Linked DNA regions of Homo sapiens: regions 1 and 2 are each linked to region 3. Evidence: fine-mapped expression QTL. A gene starts in region 3. Each other region holds a variant in brackets. All regions are shown on one strand. Distances are between the middles of the regions.

Region 1 (5,661 bases), 150 kb after region 3:
GAGCCCAGGAGGGAGGTCGAGGCTGCAGTGAGCCATGATCATGCCACTGCACTCCAGCATGGGTGACAGAGTGAGATGCTACCTCAATAAATAAACAAATAAATAAATAAATAAATAGCCTATATTCTTCCATTTATCTCTGAATCATTCTCTGAATGTCTGAATGAATATTTCAGATCAAGACTAGAGATCTAGTCTTCTGTTGCTCAGTTCACAGTAATCAAAACAAAAAAAAAAAGACAATTCATATACCAAGTGCCAACATCCTCTGATATATATAAAAGGAGTGACAGGTGTTGGTGATAATATCCTAAGGACTAAAATGTTACTGGTTCCTACCCAAGCGCCTCATTCTCAGAATTTAAGATATGTAGGATATCAAGTTGTGGCTCTGCCACTGACTTATTATTACTTAACGTCACAGAACCTCAATTTCATTATCTGTAAAACAGAAGATAAAACCCATCTCTTGGAATTGTGCCCACTAAATGAGGTGCCAAATATAATAGAGTCCTAAGCTCATTGGTTTTCAAAATTGAACGTGCGTAAGAATTACCTTGGAATTATCTTGGGGGCTTATTAAAACGTAGATTCCTGTGCCTCATCTAGCCCTACTGAATCTAAATTTTTGGGAGTGGGGTTTACAAATATCTTTTTTTTTTCTCTTTTAAGACAAGTTTTCACTCCTGTCACCCAGGTTGGAGTGTGGTAGCATGATCTCAGCTCGCTGTAACCTCTGCCTCCCTGGCTTGAGCAATTCTCCCGCCTCAGTGTCCCATGTAGCTGGGACTACAGGTGCGTGCCACCACAGCTGGCTAATTTTTGTAATTTTTGTAGAGATGGGGTTTTGCCATGTTGCCCAGGCTGGTCTTGAACTCCTGAGCTCAAGTGATCTGCCTGCCTTGGCTTCCCAAAGTACTGGGATTACAGGTGTGAGCCACCATGCCTGGCCACAAATAAGCTTTTTAAATAAGCAACATCCTAGACTTCTAGTGGTTAAAGGACAACTTTGGTTGTTGTTGTTGTTGTTGTTTTGAGAGAGTCTTGCTCTGTTGCTCATGCTGGAGTGCAGTGGCACGATCTCGGCTCACTGTAAACTCGGCCTCCCAGGTTCCTCATGCCTCAGCCTCCTGAGTAGCTGGGATTACTGGCGTGCACCACCACATTTGGCTAATTTTTTGTATTTTTAGTAGAGATGGGGTTTCGCCATGTTGGCCAGGCTGGTCTAGAACTCCTGGCCCCAAGTGACCCACCTGCCTCAGCCTCCCAAAGTTATTACAGGTGTGAGCCACTGCGTCCTGGCCCAAAGGACCACATTTTGATAAATGTTGCCCAAAGCATTCAATAAAATTAAGAAATCTCCTTTCTTGCCCTTCAAAAGCTGTTTTGGTTAAAATAGCTAGGTGCTGTGATGTACACACCTGTAGTCCTAGCTACTTGGGAGGTTAAGACAGGATTGCTTGAGCCCAGGAGTTTGAGGCCTGTGAACAGCCACTGCACTCTTGCCTGGGGAACACAGTAAGACCCTATGTCTTAAAAACAAAACAAAACTTAATTGCGGAGTAATGTAAATCAGTTAAGAATGCATAGTAGGTTCTAAACAGCATGGAAAAGTACCTTATAGAATTTCAATATTTGCTTTGTCTTTACTTCTCTCTTTTTTTTATTTTTTTAATACTTTTTGTAGGAATGGGGTTTTGCCATCTTGCTCAGGCTGGTCTCGAACTCCTGGGCTCAAGCTACCCATCTGTCTCAGCTCCTGAAGTGCTAGGATTACAGGCATGAACTACCATATTTGGTGCAATATTGTATTTCTAAAAAATCTATTTGGGAAGCAATATAGGGTTAATATACAATACAGTGTCCTGATTCCAGTCATATACTTTCATTTTCTACAGTAGCTGGTGATAAAATATCATGGTAGTCACTGGTTTTAGGTAGATAAATATGTACTACAAGACATTTATATTGCTTAATGAGATTATTGTGAAGCTTCAATAACATTGTACAACTATCTTCTCTCTCGTTTATAGCTAATGATTGAAATCACACGTCATCAATCACATTATAAATAATAAAAAAAGACTAAATGCAAATTTTCACCAATTTTCTTCAAAAAATCATCTGCCCAGGGAGATCATTTCAAAAATTTCATATCCAGTTTCTTATTCTTACCTTTAAAATTTCTGGCTTTGTTTTTTCCATCACATGAGTCAGACTAAAAAGATGAAATAGAGCTTCCCGAACAAAGAATGCCCGTTCACTGTAACGCTTCAGTGCTTCTGCAATCTGAGTTTCATTGGCTTCCCCAGACACCTGTGAACATAACCAGATTAGCTTTTAGAATTCTCTCTCTTTCTCTATCTAATTATCATGTGTGGCCAGGCGCGGTGGCTCACGCCTGTAATCCCAGTACTTTGGGAGGCCAAGGTGGGTGGATCATGTGAAGTCAGGAGTTCGAGACCACCCTGGCCAACATGGTGAAACTCCATCTCTACTAAAAATAAAAAATTAGCCAAGCACGGTGGTGCATGCCTGTAACTGCAGCTACTCAGGAGGCTGAGGCAGGAGAATCGCTTGAACCCAGGAGGCGGAGGTTACAGTGAGCTGAGATCACGCCACTGCACTCCAGCCTGGGCAACACAGCAAGACTCTGTCTCTAAATAAATAAATAAATATCATTTGTATACATGGTATCTTGGATAGTTATGTAAAGCTGGGATCAAATAAAAATGACTATACTTTCCAATCTATCCAGATTAGTCATCTTAAACAGCTATATCTGTCTTGAAGAGATGTATATTAGATAGGCTCAGAACCTAGCATAAGACCATGGGCGAAATTTTCTGTATTATACCTAAAATAGATCTCAAGATATTTAACACTATTATAAGGCCCTACCGCTTGATTAGGATCCTATCTGCCTCTTAATCCCCTCCCTCTAGCTCACAATGTTATAACTGTATGACCTTTTTTCCTCACC[T/C]TTCCGTAAGTCAAGCTTTTTCTCAGCAAAGGACCACTCATACAATGTCCTCTCTGACTGAAAACTTCCTTTCTCTCTTTACCTGACTAATTTCTACTCATTCTTCCTTATTCAAGTTAAGGACACTTTCTTAGAGAAGTCTTTGTTGAGCCACTGATTTAAGTTAGGTCCCCTGAAACATCTCTTTCAGAGCTATTATCATAATCCCCCACTACATTGATCCATTCACCATTGTACCACAATAGCTAGCGTTATGCTTGGCTCAGAATACTTTCTCCATAAGTATTCATCAAATAAATGTATCAATTAATTTCCCCAGATTTATCACGCTCCTTTTCAGCACCAAGAGGTTCTGTTTAAAATTAAGTCTTTCTAGGGATTCCCAACATAAAAGTATATTATTTTAAGATAATACGCTTATCTTAAAATGTAGTTCAGGTGCCATTCGGCAACCAAACGTAGGTAGCAGAAAGTGGCTCTTTATAAAAGTAATCCAACTAGTAAGTGAAAAATAAATGATTAAAATATCACCATAATCCCCAATGAATTGATAGATCTAGCTACTAAGTGTCAATAACTGCTAACATCACAGAAAGAGAAACAACTAGATATTTATGTACCTCATAACGTAAGAATACAACACCTAAGGGTCTGGCCAAAGGGATCTAACGTAAGTCTAATTAAGCCTCCAAATCCAGCTACCAATTTGCAGAAAATACAAAGAGAAAGATGCACCATTAGTATACAATCAGCAAAATCCAGGCTGGCAGAGTGGCTTATATCTGTAATCCCAGCACTTTCGGAGGCTGAGGCAGGAGCATCACTTTAACCCCAGGAGTTCCAGACCAGCCTGGGCAACACAGCAAGACCCTGTCTCTACAAAACATCAACAAATACAATAAAATCCAGACTGAGGGAAACTCTACAAATCCAAACGATAGATTATTCAATAAACAAATTATAAGGAAAAGAAAGGGATGAGGAGAAACCTATAAACTAAAAGATACTCAAAAGACATCAAATTGTTTTAAACAGACAAGATTATACAGGTGCCTAAATAGTTGGGTCATAAAATTATAAAGAAATGAAAGGACATGGTTGGGTGTAGTGGCTCGCGCCTGTAATCCCACCACTTTGGGAGGCTGAAGCGAGCTTTGGGGTAGATGACAAAGTTCTGTTACTTAACCTGAGTGATGGTCTCAAGTGTGTTCACTTTATTTTCAACTCATTAAGCTATATAATTATTTACTGCCTTTGTCTCTGTTTTATTTTACAATAAAGTTTTAAAAAATGCCAAAAAACGTCATTCAGAGCGACTATCTCATAATAAGGGGAAGATTTAGTCTTTTTTGGCAGTAACATTATACAGTGTGACACAAAAGTAATCAAATATTTTAAAAATATATTACTCAGTAACTAAGTTGTATATAAACATATAATATTCAGCCAGGCATGATGGCTCATGCCTGTAATCCCAGCACTTTGGGAGGTAGAAGCAGGAGGATCACTTGAGCCCAGGAGTTCAAAACCAGCCTGGGGAACATAGTAAGACCCTGTCTCTATAAAAGAAAAGAAAAATTAGTTACGTGTGATGGTGCATGCCTGTAGTCCCAGCTACTTGGGAGACTGAAGAGGACTGCTTGAGCCCACGAATTTGAGGCTGCAGTAAGCCATGACTGTGCCACAGCACTCCATGATGCGCAACAGAGTGAGACTCTATCAAAAAAAACAAAAAAGCCTATAAACGTTCAGATTGGAATATGCAGCTTTGAGGAAATGAAGGGATGTATCATGGTTGACATTTCAACCATTAATAGGATATGCTACAAGAGTCTGAAATGAATTAGACTACAGTATTGATATATGTCACATGACACAAGGGTACATATGAAGAATTTCTAAGATTGTTGAAATAATAATAAAAGTTTCTTTACTTCCATTACTTTACGTCTTTTCTCTTTTTTTTCCTTTTTTTTGAGATACGGTCTTGCTCTGTCGCCCAGACTGGAGTGCAGTGGCACGATCTCGGCTCACTGCAACCTCTACTTCCCGGGTTCAAGCAATTGTCATGCCTCAGCCTCCTGAGTAGCTGGGATTACAGGCGCCCGCCACCACGCCCGGCTAATTTTTGTATTTTTAGTAGAGACGGGATTTCGTCATGTTGGCCAGGCTGGTCTCGAACTCCTGACCTCAAATGATCAGCCAACCTCGGCCTCCTAAAGTGCTGGGATTACAGGCATGAGCCACCACTTCCAGCCTCCATTACTTTACTTCTTTAAACCCTTTTTAAACTTTCTATTTATGTATAACATACATACACAAACTGGTTTGGACTACATATTCACATATACAAATGGGTATTTAATAAAATTTTTCAAAGTGTTCAGTTCATTGAATCACCCAGAACTTTTTCTTATAAATTCAGAAAAAAACAAAAAATGCTGAAATGTGAAATGAAAAAAACTCTAAGAGGGAAATATAAAATAATCTAAATCAGACTTTATTCTTCCTTTACCCACATTTGGTTGGTTCCAACAGCTTTATAAATCTCTTATACGAAATATATCCTCAAGTTACCTTGAATATAAAATTAAAGAACTCTTGTTACTGGAATGTTAAAGACTCTAAGCCAATTTTTTTTTTTTTTTTTTTGAGACACAGTCTTTCTCTATTGCTCA
Region 2 (5,000 bases), 64 kb before region 3:
AACTTGTCCGGGTTATCAGGAAATTTCAAGAGCAGGAATGTCCTCCTTCACCAGAACCAACACGGAAAGAAAAAGACAAGAAAGGCTGCCATTGTGTCATTTTCTAGAATCCCTTCAGTTTTAGCTACCAACTGCCAGGAAAAGCCCTCATCTTCTCTTCCTCTCCTCAGTTTACATCTTGTTGGTACCTTTCTAGCCTTAGACAAATGATCACCATGTTAGCCTTAGACCAAGAAGCTGGCTAGTCCTTTCTGTGAAGCTAATACAATGGTCATTTCCAGACAAACTTAAAGGAAACACTAAGGCTGCTTCAAAGATTATCTGATTCCTTTAAAATATATGTCTATATACACAGACATGCTCTTTTTTTAAGTGCTTACATTTTAATAGAGATGAATCAGTTTTGGAATCTAAGCTGTTTGCCAAGCTGAAGCTACAGGTTGTGAAATAATTTTTAACTTTTGGAATCACACTGCCTACTGTTACTCTAAATAGAAATATAGGGTTTTTTTAATGTGAATTTTTGCCTATCTTTAAACATTTCAATGTCAGCCTTTGTTAACCTTAAATACACTGAATTGAATCTACAAAAGTGAACCATCTCAGACCTTTACTTATACTACAACTTTTGTTTTCTGGTGGCCAAAATACCAAATGCCTATTGTATTTATGGATTAAAAACTGCTCATAAAAGCCTGTGTTACTGCTCCTACTCTTGAAGATGGTAATATTCTACGTGGTCAAATATTTGGACTCATTTAGGACTTAGATATTTGAGTGTACTTGGTTTTTTAATTTAACTCTTTTTCACAGCCACGCTAAGGGTAAAAAGGAATAATTTCTGTCTGTCTTCCTTTTCAAGTATTTCTGGGTAAGGGATTCAAAAAACTAAAACTGTTTTTGTTTGTAATATAAAATATGGAATTGATCTTTCTGGGGTCAGAGATGATTAATGTTTTTGCTATATACTTTTATACATTATTTTCTTATCAAACTAGTTAACAAATATTTTTATATGTTTGTAAGCAGATACGCTTTCATAGCATACCTTGTGTATATGTAAAGATAAGTATTTAATTCTCACTGTTCACTTTTAACTGACAAAGAAAAACAAGTGGAAACTACAGAAACTGTGGTAGAACTTTTACTTGCTGGTCTGGTCTTGGTTGTACCCATCTTTGGCCAGTCACACATCTACTCAAGAAACCTTCCCAACAGAGTACAACAGGATGAGACTCTGAAATCACTTTCAGTATTCCCTGCTAGATATTGATTGTTATTTCAAGTATTAAGTGTAAGCTTTTAATGGATAATTAGTATAACTGTGGATGGCATCTGATTTTGTTTTTAATTCTGTGGATTGTATTTAAGCAATTCAATAGTATGTTCCTGATTTTGAGATGCTAAGTGGTATTGCACGGTTGTCACTTTATCAAGTGTGTACAACAGTCCCATGAAGTTTATAGAGCATACCCTTGTATAGCTTCAGGTACTAGAATTAAAATTGATCTGTTATCACAAAAAAAAAAACCAAATTAAAGAACATTCTTTTCCAAAAATGGTTAAAAATTATTTTTCATACTGTGATAAAAACAAGAGGTTTGGGCTGGGCGTGGTGGTTCATGCCTGTAATCCCAGCACTTTGGGAGGCCGAGGCAGGCAGATCACAAGGTCAGGAGTTCAAGACCAGCCTGACCAACCTGGTGAAACCCTGTCTCCACTAAAAATACAAAAATTAGCTGGGCGTGGTGGCACATGCCCATAATCCCGGCTACTTGGGAGGCTGAGGCAGAAGAATCGCTTGAACCTGGGAGGCGGAGGTTGCAGTGAGCCAAGATCGCGCTACTGCGCTCCAGCCTGGGCGACAAAGCAAGACTCCGTTTCAAGGAAAAAAAAAAGAAAAAAGAAAAAAAAAACAAGAGGTTTATTACTGGCAAACAAACAAACAAGAACCAGTTAAGCAGATCCATCATGGCTCCCTTTTGTAGTTGGGAAGGGAATTCTGGAAGTTATTGTGTTCCTACTCTTTTTGGGGGACTCTACTATATACTTTACATACATATATTTCCTCACTTAATCCACAGAACAGCCTTATAAGGTAGGTACTATATTCCCATTTTATAGATAAGAAACTAGGATTAACTGGCTAAGCTACATACTAAAGAGAGTGAAGAGGCTAGGTTCAAACCCAAGACTTCATTCATACAGAACACGTACCTATAATTCAGGTACATCCCTTACATATATATCACTTTCCATTCATAGCCACTATTTCTAAAAGTGTACCTGCACTATTATTGCCACTTTCTCACTTATAATTCTTTCTGAATCTCATCTGCTTCCATGCAAAACACTTCTTCAAAATTGCTCCAAGATTGCCAACGACTTTGTAACAGCCAAATCTGAAGGACACTTTTCATTCTTTATCTATCTAACTTTTGTGGCCTAATCTCTTACTTTTGAAACACTCTCCTTCCTTGGCTAACTGAGCATTCCCTCTCATTATTCTTAAATGGTTCTTCTTCTCCACCTATACCTTTAATTTTTTTTTTTTTTTTTTTTTTTTTTTGAGACGGAGTCTCACTCTGTCGTCCAGGCTGGAGTGCAGTGGCATGATCTCGGCTCACTGCAGGCTCCGCCTCCCGGGTTCACGCCATTCTCCTGCCTCAGCCTCCCAAGTAGCTGGGACTGCAGGCGCCCGCCACCACGCCTGGCTAACTTTTTGTATTTTTAGTAGAGACGGTGTTTCACTGCGTTAGCCAGGATGGTCTTGATCTCCTGACCCACCGTGCCTGGTTGTCTTTTTTATAATTTCTATTTATTAATATTCTCTACCTGGAGAAACATTGTTCTCATACTTTCCTTTAGTTCTTTATATATGGTTTCCTTTAATATATTTAAAATAGCTAGTTAAAGTCTTTGTCTAGTAAGTCCAATGTTTTGGCTTCCTCAGGGATAGTCTCTATTGACTGCTTTTTTTCCTAGGTACATAGGTCACCCTTTATTGTTTATCTGCATGTCTTTCTTTTTTTTTGTTGAAAACTGGACATTTTAAATAATGTAGCTTCTCTAAAA[A/G]TCAAATCCTCCTCTTTCCCAGTTTGTTGTTGTTGTTGTTGCTGTTTATTGTTGTGGTTGTTTATTTAGTGACTTTTCCAAGCTAATTCTATAAAGTCTGTAATCTTTGTCCCACATGGCCACTGAATTTTCTCTTCCCTCAGCTACTGACTGGACAGAGATGTCCTTAAATGACTGAACTAAAAAGTCTCCTGGTCTTTACTGGACCTCTACCTGCATAATGTGGTACTCAGCCAGGCAGTTTACAATTCTACCTTAGCCTTTGCCTTTTGCTTGTGCAGAGCCCCAAGTTTAGCCAGAGGTGAGCTTAGGACCTTCTCAGGTCTTTCCTGAGCATGCACACAACTCTGACCTTATATACGCCATTAGGCTTCTAGATTCTCAGGAACATATCAGATCTTTTCAAAGCCCCCTATGGACATCCTACTCCCCAACTTTTCCTTTTTTTTGGTTATTTTGTTGTTTACCCCAATTGGCACCTGAGGTAGCTACTTTGTTGAACAGTTGTGGCTGATTTTTCTCGACAATTGCCTCTAGGGAAAATACTCTTTGCACTGGGTGAGTTTTCAGTGAGGTGAAATAAAGACAAAGCTTTCAAGTGGGGTTTACCAGGACACTGTCAGACAGGTCATATAATGACAGTTCTCTAAGGAAGGGGCTTTGAAAGAGCTCCAACTCTGTTCTGACTTGCTCAGTGCCAGCTAGGCTGCTAATTTTCACCATGACTGCAAGCTGTAGGTTTTCAAGGCTACAGTGGAGCTGCAGAAAGAGGGAGGTGTTAAGGCAGGTGAAAATGCCACAAAGCTCGTTGCTCTCACAGAGATTATGTTCTTTGTTGTTGTTTTAAGCACCCCCCACCTCCACTCCCAACAGATTGTTGTAAATCTGGTTAATTTTTAAAGTTATGGAAAAAGTTGATCTTGACAATTTTTGCCAGAGTTCTCCGAACTTTTATAAAGGACAGGATTTTTGGATGTTGTTATTTTGCCACTTCCCATAACATCACTGATCATCCCCATAATTCTTAGATTTCTTTGAAAGATATTAGATTGTTTAAAGCAACAATAATAATAGTATATTGTGAGGGTTATAATATACTTAGGAATAAGTGTATGGAAACAATAACACAAAAGATAGGAGAAGGTAAATAGATAGGCAGCTGTAAAAATCTTACGTTATATACAAAATGGCATAACACTATTTGAAGGTAGACTGTGATATATTAAAAATGCATGTTGTGGCCGTGTGTGGCCCATGCCGGTAATCCCAGCACTCTGGGAGGCTGAGGCAGGTGGATCACTTGAGGTCAGGAGTTCAAGACCAGCCTGGCCAACATGGTGAAACTCCATCTCTACTAAAAAAAAAAATACAAAAATTAGCTGGGCATGGTGGCACAAGCCTGTAGTCCCAGCTACTCAGGAGGCTAAGGCAGGAGAATGGCTTGAACCCGGGAGGCAGGGGCTGCAATGAGCCGAAATTGTGCCACTTCTTTCCAGCCTGGGCAACAGAGCGAGACTCCATCTCAAAAAAAAAAAAAAAGAAAAGAAAGAAAGAAAAAAGGAATTGCATGGTGAGGTTTGGGCTTAATTTTTTATTTAAAAAAACAGAAACCACATTGTACAAGTTTGTCATTTTATAATTAAGGAATTAAAAGTTAAAGTGATTGACTGATAAAAATAGTTTCACACGGCCAGCCAGTCAACAGCAGAGCCATAGTAAAATTCTTACTTTATAAATTCTAGTCCAGTTGTCTCAAGAGAAAATAATTTCCATGCAATGTCAACCATGTATACAACTACATATAAATAACATGCTCATTTCAAATGATTCTTATTTAGCAGGTCTAGTAAGATCTCTATTTGGAAACATCCTGAATTTAGTTTTAATTAATTCAAATTCTCATCAATTAATGAAGATTATTTAAG
Region 3 (5,530 bases):
CATGGTGGCACACACCTGTAATCCCACCTACTTGGGAGGCTGAGCAGAAGAATCACTTGAACCTGGGAGGCAGAGGTTGCAGTGAGCTGAGATCGCCCCACTGCACTCCAGACTGGGGGACAGAGTGAGACTCTGTCTCAAAAAATAAAAATAAAGTATTATGATAAATTATAACAGTAATATATGGTAGAAATGAGACCCATCTAGTAGTAAGTAGTGAGACCCTGTCTCTACAAAAAAAATTTTTTTTTAATTAGCCAGGTATGGTAGAATGCCTGTAGTCCTAGCTACTCGGTAGGATCGCTAGAGTCCAGGAGTTCAAGGCTGCAGTGAGCTATGATTGCACCACTGCCTTCCCATCTGGTTGACAGAGCAAAACTCCGTCTTCCAAAAAAAAAAAAAAAAGTGTTACAGTGTTGTCTAGTCAATATTTCTCCCTCCTCCATCAAACTCTGTCCCAAGGTGCAGAAGACCAGACCTATAGCAAAGTACACTGGCCAGATAGGCACATCATTAATGGCACTACCCAAACTCCTCACCACTTTCCTCTGGACTGTAACACCTCCCCGACCTCTACCTCCCAACTTGAGGAAAAAGGAATACATCTATTTCCCAAAGGTTTAGACAACTGTGCTTTTCCATACAGCACATATAATCAGGCATTCAGCAGCCAGAGGAAGGTTTGACTGCATTAATACCTTACTTCGAAAGATCCTACTGTCCACCTGTGTTAGAAGCCTCCCCTTCTGTGAAACACTAGGATGATGTCCTTCCGCTTCATAAGGTATTGGTCCACTTTTCCATTTCCATGGATATTTTTTGTTTTTGTTGAGACAAGGACTGACTCTATGGCCCAGGCTGGGGGTGCAGTTGCGTGATCTCAGCTCACTGCAACCTCCATCTCCCAGGCTCAAGCAATCCTCCCACCTCAGCCTCCCGAGTAGCTGGCGTGTGCTACCATGCCCGACTAATTTTCGTATTTTTAGTAGAGACGGGGTTTCACCATGTTGGCCAGGCTGGTCTCGAACTCTTGACCTCAGGTGATCCACCCGCCTTGGCCTCCCAAAGTGCTGGGATTACAGGCGTGAGCCACCGGCCCCGGCCTATTTACATGTTGGACTGAATTAGGTACGCTCAGCCCACTGGTAAAATAATAAACATTTTAGGGCTGTTTTCTCAGAAATAGAACTCTCCCTAGGAACTCTTTCACAAAGCATATCCATTTAGTATTGTTCAACTAACATTCACTGAGGGTCTTCAAGCATCAGGAACGTTCAGGGCGAGGGGCACAGCAGTGAATAAGCCAGGTACCCAGTCTAGAGGAGCTGCCATGCTAAGAGGGCGCGCAGACGCCTATGAGCTTTAGTACTGCCCGGTACTGCCGAGCACAGTAAGTGCAGGACAGAGGTAAGCACAGTGCAAGGCTCTAGGGGAAAGTCAGGAGGATCCGAGGCGTCCTGGAGAAGATCCGATCTGAACGGATCCTTTCAGGATGCACAAAAGTTAACAGGTGAAGATACACGGTACAAACAGAACAGAAGCAAAGCAACAGAGGCATCAGACAACTGCGTCCGGGGAGAAACGAAAGGCAGTTTGGCATTAAGGAGCATGCGGGCGATGAGGGGAAAACGGCCGTGGGAGCCTGCGGCGTCCGGGTCCCAAGCAGTCACTGGAGGGACAGAGGGAGGCCGGAATCTGCCACTCGGGCCGAGGCGCTGGGCATCAGGAGCGTTTCTCCTCGCCATCCACATCTGGAGCTGTCTCTGTGAGGGCTCCTGTGGGGGCTGTTCCTGGGAGGGCCGAGCAGGCGGCATTCGCGACCTGCCTCCCTCCGGGGCAAGCCAGCCCACACACCTCGGGACTCCGCTCAGAATCTAAAGAGGTGAGATCCTTGGATTATCTCGGGGCTGCTTCATGAACTCTGACCAGAAGAAAAGGGAAGGAGGAAGCAGAAGGCCGCAGGAACCAGCCCGAGACGCTATGACCCCAGAGATTCCGCAGAGTACAAGCCACCAAGTCGCCACGCCGATGACCCACGCGCGGAGCAGTCGAAGCTAGGAGACCGGAGGGACAGAGAAACCCAGGCACCGACCGCCCCCGAGCCTCAGAGGGCCAGCAGGGCCGCTGCTCGGTTTACCTTGGTCATGCCAACCCCCACCACGAACACCCGGCGCAGGGTCGCAGGCTCCCACGGGGAAGAGGACATGGCTGCACCAGTGCGGGACCGGGGCGGGCGCCGCGGACGACTGCCGGCACTGACAGGCGGAGACTGCACCAGAGCTCCCTGAAGCCCGAAGCCAGGGCCGCGGGCGGCAACACAGGCGCGTGAGAGTGCGCGTGCGTAGGGGCAGGAGGAGGGGGCGGGGTGGGGCGCGTCCTGTGGGGCGGGGAGCGTTCTCTAGCCCTTAGGCAGCCGAATCCCTAATTTGCGGACTTGGGCATGGGACTGAGTCAACCTGTCCCCATCTCTGATCCTGTGCTTAGGTTCTGTACGGTGAGCGGGAGTAGGCTTGCAGTGGGGCCTAAGACTGAGAGGAGGGGTTGGCCGGAAAGCGGACTCATGAAAGGTGACCCTGAGGAGAGCCGTTGGGGTTCGTGTTGGAATTGGCCTGTGTCCTGTTAGCGGTGGCAGTTGAGAGTGAATTCATGAATTTAAACTCACAGGACACCAAGAAAGCGGGGATGGGCAGGATCTCACACATGGATACAATGTCTAAATCAAAAAACCCAGGCTCCGTCACCAGCTGCGTGACCTTTTTAATCTTGTGAACAAAAGTTCTCCGAAAAGGAATTTGGAAGACAGAGACTTTATTCCAGCAAACCGGGGAGAAACAGCCTTCCATGTTTATTGGAGACCGGAGTCTCGCTCTGTCGCCCAGGCTGGAGTGCAATGCCGCGAACTCGGCTCACTGCAGCCTCCGCCTCCCAGGTTCAAGCAATCCTCCTGCCTCAGCCTCCCGAGTATCTGGGATTACAGGCGCGCGCCACCACGCCCCGCTAATTTTTGTATTTTTAGTAGAGATGGGGTTTCGCCATGTTGGCCAGGCTGGTCTGGAACTCCTGACCTTAGGTGATCTACCCACCTTGGCCTCCCAAAGTGCTGGGATTACAGGCGTGAGCCACCGCGCCCGGCTCCCCGGTTTATTTTATCTTATGTAAAAATGCAGATTCATTGAGCTAGATGAATGCATAAGTGACTATTTCTCTACCCCCCTCACATGTGAAGGTTGATCAAAGACTCAGAAGAATGCAACCGTTTGCCTCTTATCTACCCACATCTTTTTAAAATTTATTCATCTTTCCCCAATATCTGCCCCTTCCCCTATAAAAACTGAAGCCCTCAAAATCATCTTTGGAGAAAGGCACGGACCTGTCTCCAAAGATGATGCACGTCCTTAAACTTGGCAAAATTAACTTCTAAATTAATTGAGATCCGTTTCATATACTTTTCGGTTTGCAGTATCAGCATTTAGAAAGGCTCTCCTAGAAGATTCTAAGGATTGCTTCTTGGCCATTTGGCTAAGATCAAGTTTAGGAGATTCTAAGAAGCCCCCTCTGTGCTAAGTAAAGAACTACTGAGCTAGGACTAGACCAACTTAGTAAAATTGCTGCGCTCAGTGATGCACGCCTCCCATCTGCTCAGGAGGCTTCGGCAGAAAGATCACTTGAGCCTGGGAATTCAAGGCTACAAATGTGCTATGATTACACCTCTGAATAGCCACTGCACTCCAGCCTGGGCAACATACCAAGACCACGTCTCTAAAAAACCAAAACGAAACAAAAAAAAAAAAAAAAGAAAAACAAACACAAATCAGGGCACTGACATGTACAGTTGTTTCTTGAAACTGATGGACTGACAAGACAGCAATATGATTGGTGGATCAGACAAAGTTACCAACCTAATAGAACAACAAGTCCTAAGGTCAAGATTAATTGTTATGTAACAAATCCTGGCTGTCCACTGGATATTGCTTTCAAAATAAGAGTCCATAGAGGGCAGAGGGGATAGATAGTAATATAAAAGGTATTTGTTAATACCGAAAAGACTGAGAAAAAACACTTCCCTTTCCAATGTGAAGGACTAAATAATCCAAACTTTTCCCACTATAAAACACAGACTTTTCTAAGTCATTGGATGTGGGGCTCTGGGGTAGCCTGAGCTGTTTGTCCCACACCAAGATGCTTCAAAACATTATTAAAAATGTTTGGATCCCCATGAAGCCCTATTATAACCAAGTTTATCAGGAGATTTGAGTAGGAATGGGGTTAATGAGCCTCATCATTTATAAAATCAGGAGTACTGATAAAATAAGTAAAATATTGAAAGCTTCTCCACCTGCTTATGGTCATCACTAACCAGCTTCACTTAGCATGCACATGAAATGAAACATTAGTCGACCTGTGAATTTAAGCAAGCTATGTTAGAAAGGAACCTGGAAAATCACTGTACACTTATATAAGTACCACTTACTTTGTGGCATGAATAAGTATACCAAAAAAAAACACCCAGAAATGCCAGATAAAATACAATAAATATCATTTTAAGCTGGGTGTGGTGGTACGAGACTGTAATCCCATCTACTTGAGGAGCTGAGGCAGAAAGGCTGCTTGAGTCCAGGAGTTCAAGGCTGCAGTGAGCTACGATTATGCCTGTGAATAGCCACTGCACTCCAGCCTGGACAGCATAGTGAGACCTTTTCTGTTAATACAAAAAGACAAAAAGCAGCGAGGCACAGTGGCTCATGCCTGTAATCCCAGCACTTTGGGAGGCCAAAATGGGAGGATTGATTGAGCCCAAGAATTCAAGACCAACCTGGGCAACATAGCTCCCTATCTCTAAAAAAAAAGAAGAAAAAACAAGAAAAATCTTTTTAAATGGGTGGATGCCAGGCATGGGGGCTCACACCTGTAATCCCAGCACTTTGGGAGGCTGAGGTGGGAGGATCACTTGAGGCCAGGTGTTTGAGACCAGCCTGGCAACATAGGGAGACCTCTGTCTCTACAAAAAATTTAACAATGAGCCAAGTGTGGTGGCCCACTCCTGTAGTCCCAGCTACTCGGAAGGCTGAGACGGGAGGATCCCCTGAGCCCAGGAGTCTGAGGTTGTAGTGAACTGACTGCACCACTGTACTCCAATGTGGGCAACAGAGTGAGACCCTGTCTCAATAAAATAGAATACAATAAATGCATGGAATATGGAGGAGGGAAGGTTTTTCTTTTAATCTTATACCCAATTATAGTTTGTATGTTTTGTTTTTGCTTCTTTTTTTTTTTTAAGACAGAATCTCACTCTGTTGCCCAGGTTGGAGTGCAGTGGTGTGATCTCAGCTCACTACAACCTCCACCTCCTGGGTTCAAGCGATTCTTGCACCTCAGCCTCCTGAGTAGCTGGGATTACAGCTGCCCACAACCACGCCTGGCTAATTTTTGTATTTTTAGTAGAGACAGGGTTTCACCATGTTGGCCAGGCTGGTCTTGAACTCCTGACCTCAGGTGACCCACCCACCTCAGCCTCCTAAAGTGCTGGGAT

Evidence for each region. PIP is the estimated chance that this variant, and not a neighbour inherited with it, causes the effect.
Region 1: its variant is the best candidate, but not a certain one, in a credible set for the expression of SCP2 in whole blood (INTERVAL, PIP 0.70).
Region 2: its variant is the best candidate, but not a certain one, in a credible set for the expression of SCP2 in whole blood (INTERVAL, PIP 0.73).

What each region holds. Positions count from the first base shown.
Region 1 is chr1:52,776,508-52,782,168 of GRCh38, reverse strand. ZYG11B (zyg-11 family member B, cell cycle regulator) reads right to left here. Exons shown (of 14, transcript NM_024646.3): 4 at 2,176-2,316. Among named protein-coding and RNA genes, the nearest start is that of ZYG11B, 53 kb to the right of the region's middle. The variant T/C (reference allele first, on the strand shown) is at 2,984.
Region 2 is chr1:52,988,303-52,993,302 of GRCh38, reverse strand. The region is part of intron 11 of SCP2 (sterol carrier protein 2); the gene reads right to left. It also overlaps the pseudogene RRAS2P1. Among named protein-coding and RNA genes, the nearest start is that of SCP2, 64 kb to the right of the region's middle. The variant A/G (reference allele first, on the strand shown) is at 3,076.
Region 3 is chr1:52,924,073-52,929,602 of GRCh38, reverse strand. SCP2 (sterol carrier protein 2) reads right to left here and starts at 2,327. Exons shown (of 16, transcript NM_002979.5): 1 at 2,138-2,327. The coding sequence starts at 2,206. It also overlaps the pseudogene LOC100652967. RefSeq lists enhancers at 1,905-1,994, 2,005-2,064, 1,717-2,232 and a silencer at 2,285-2,564.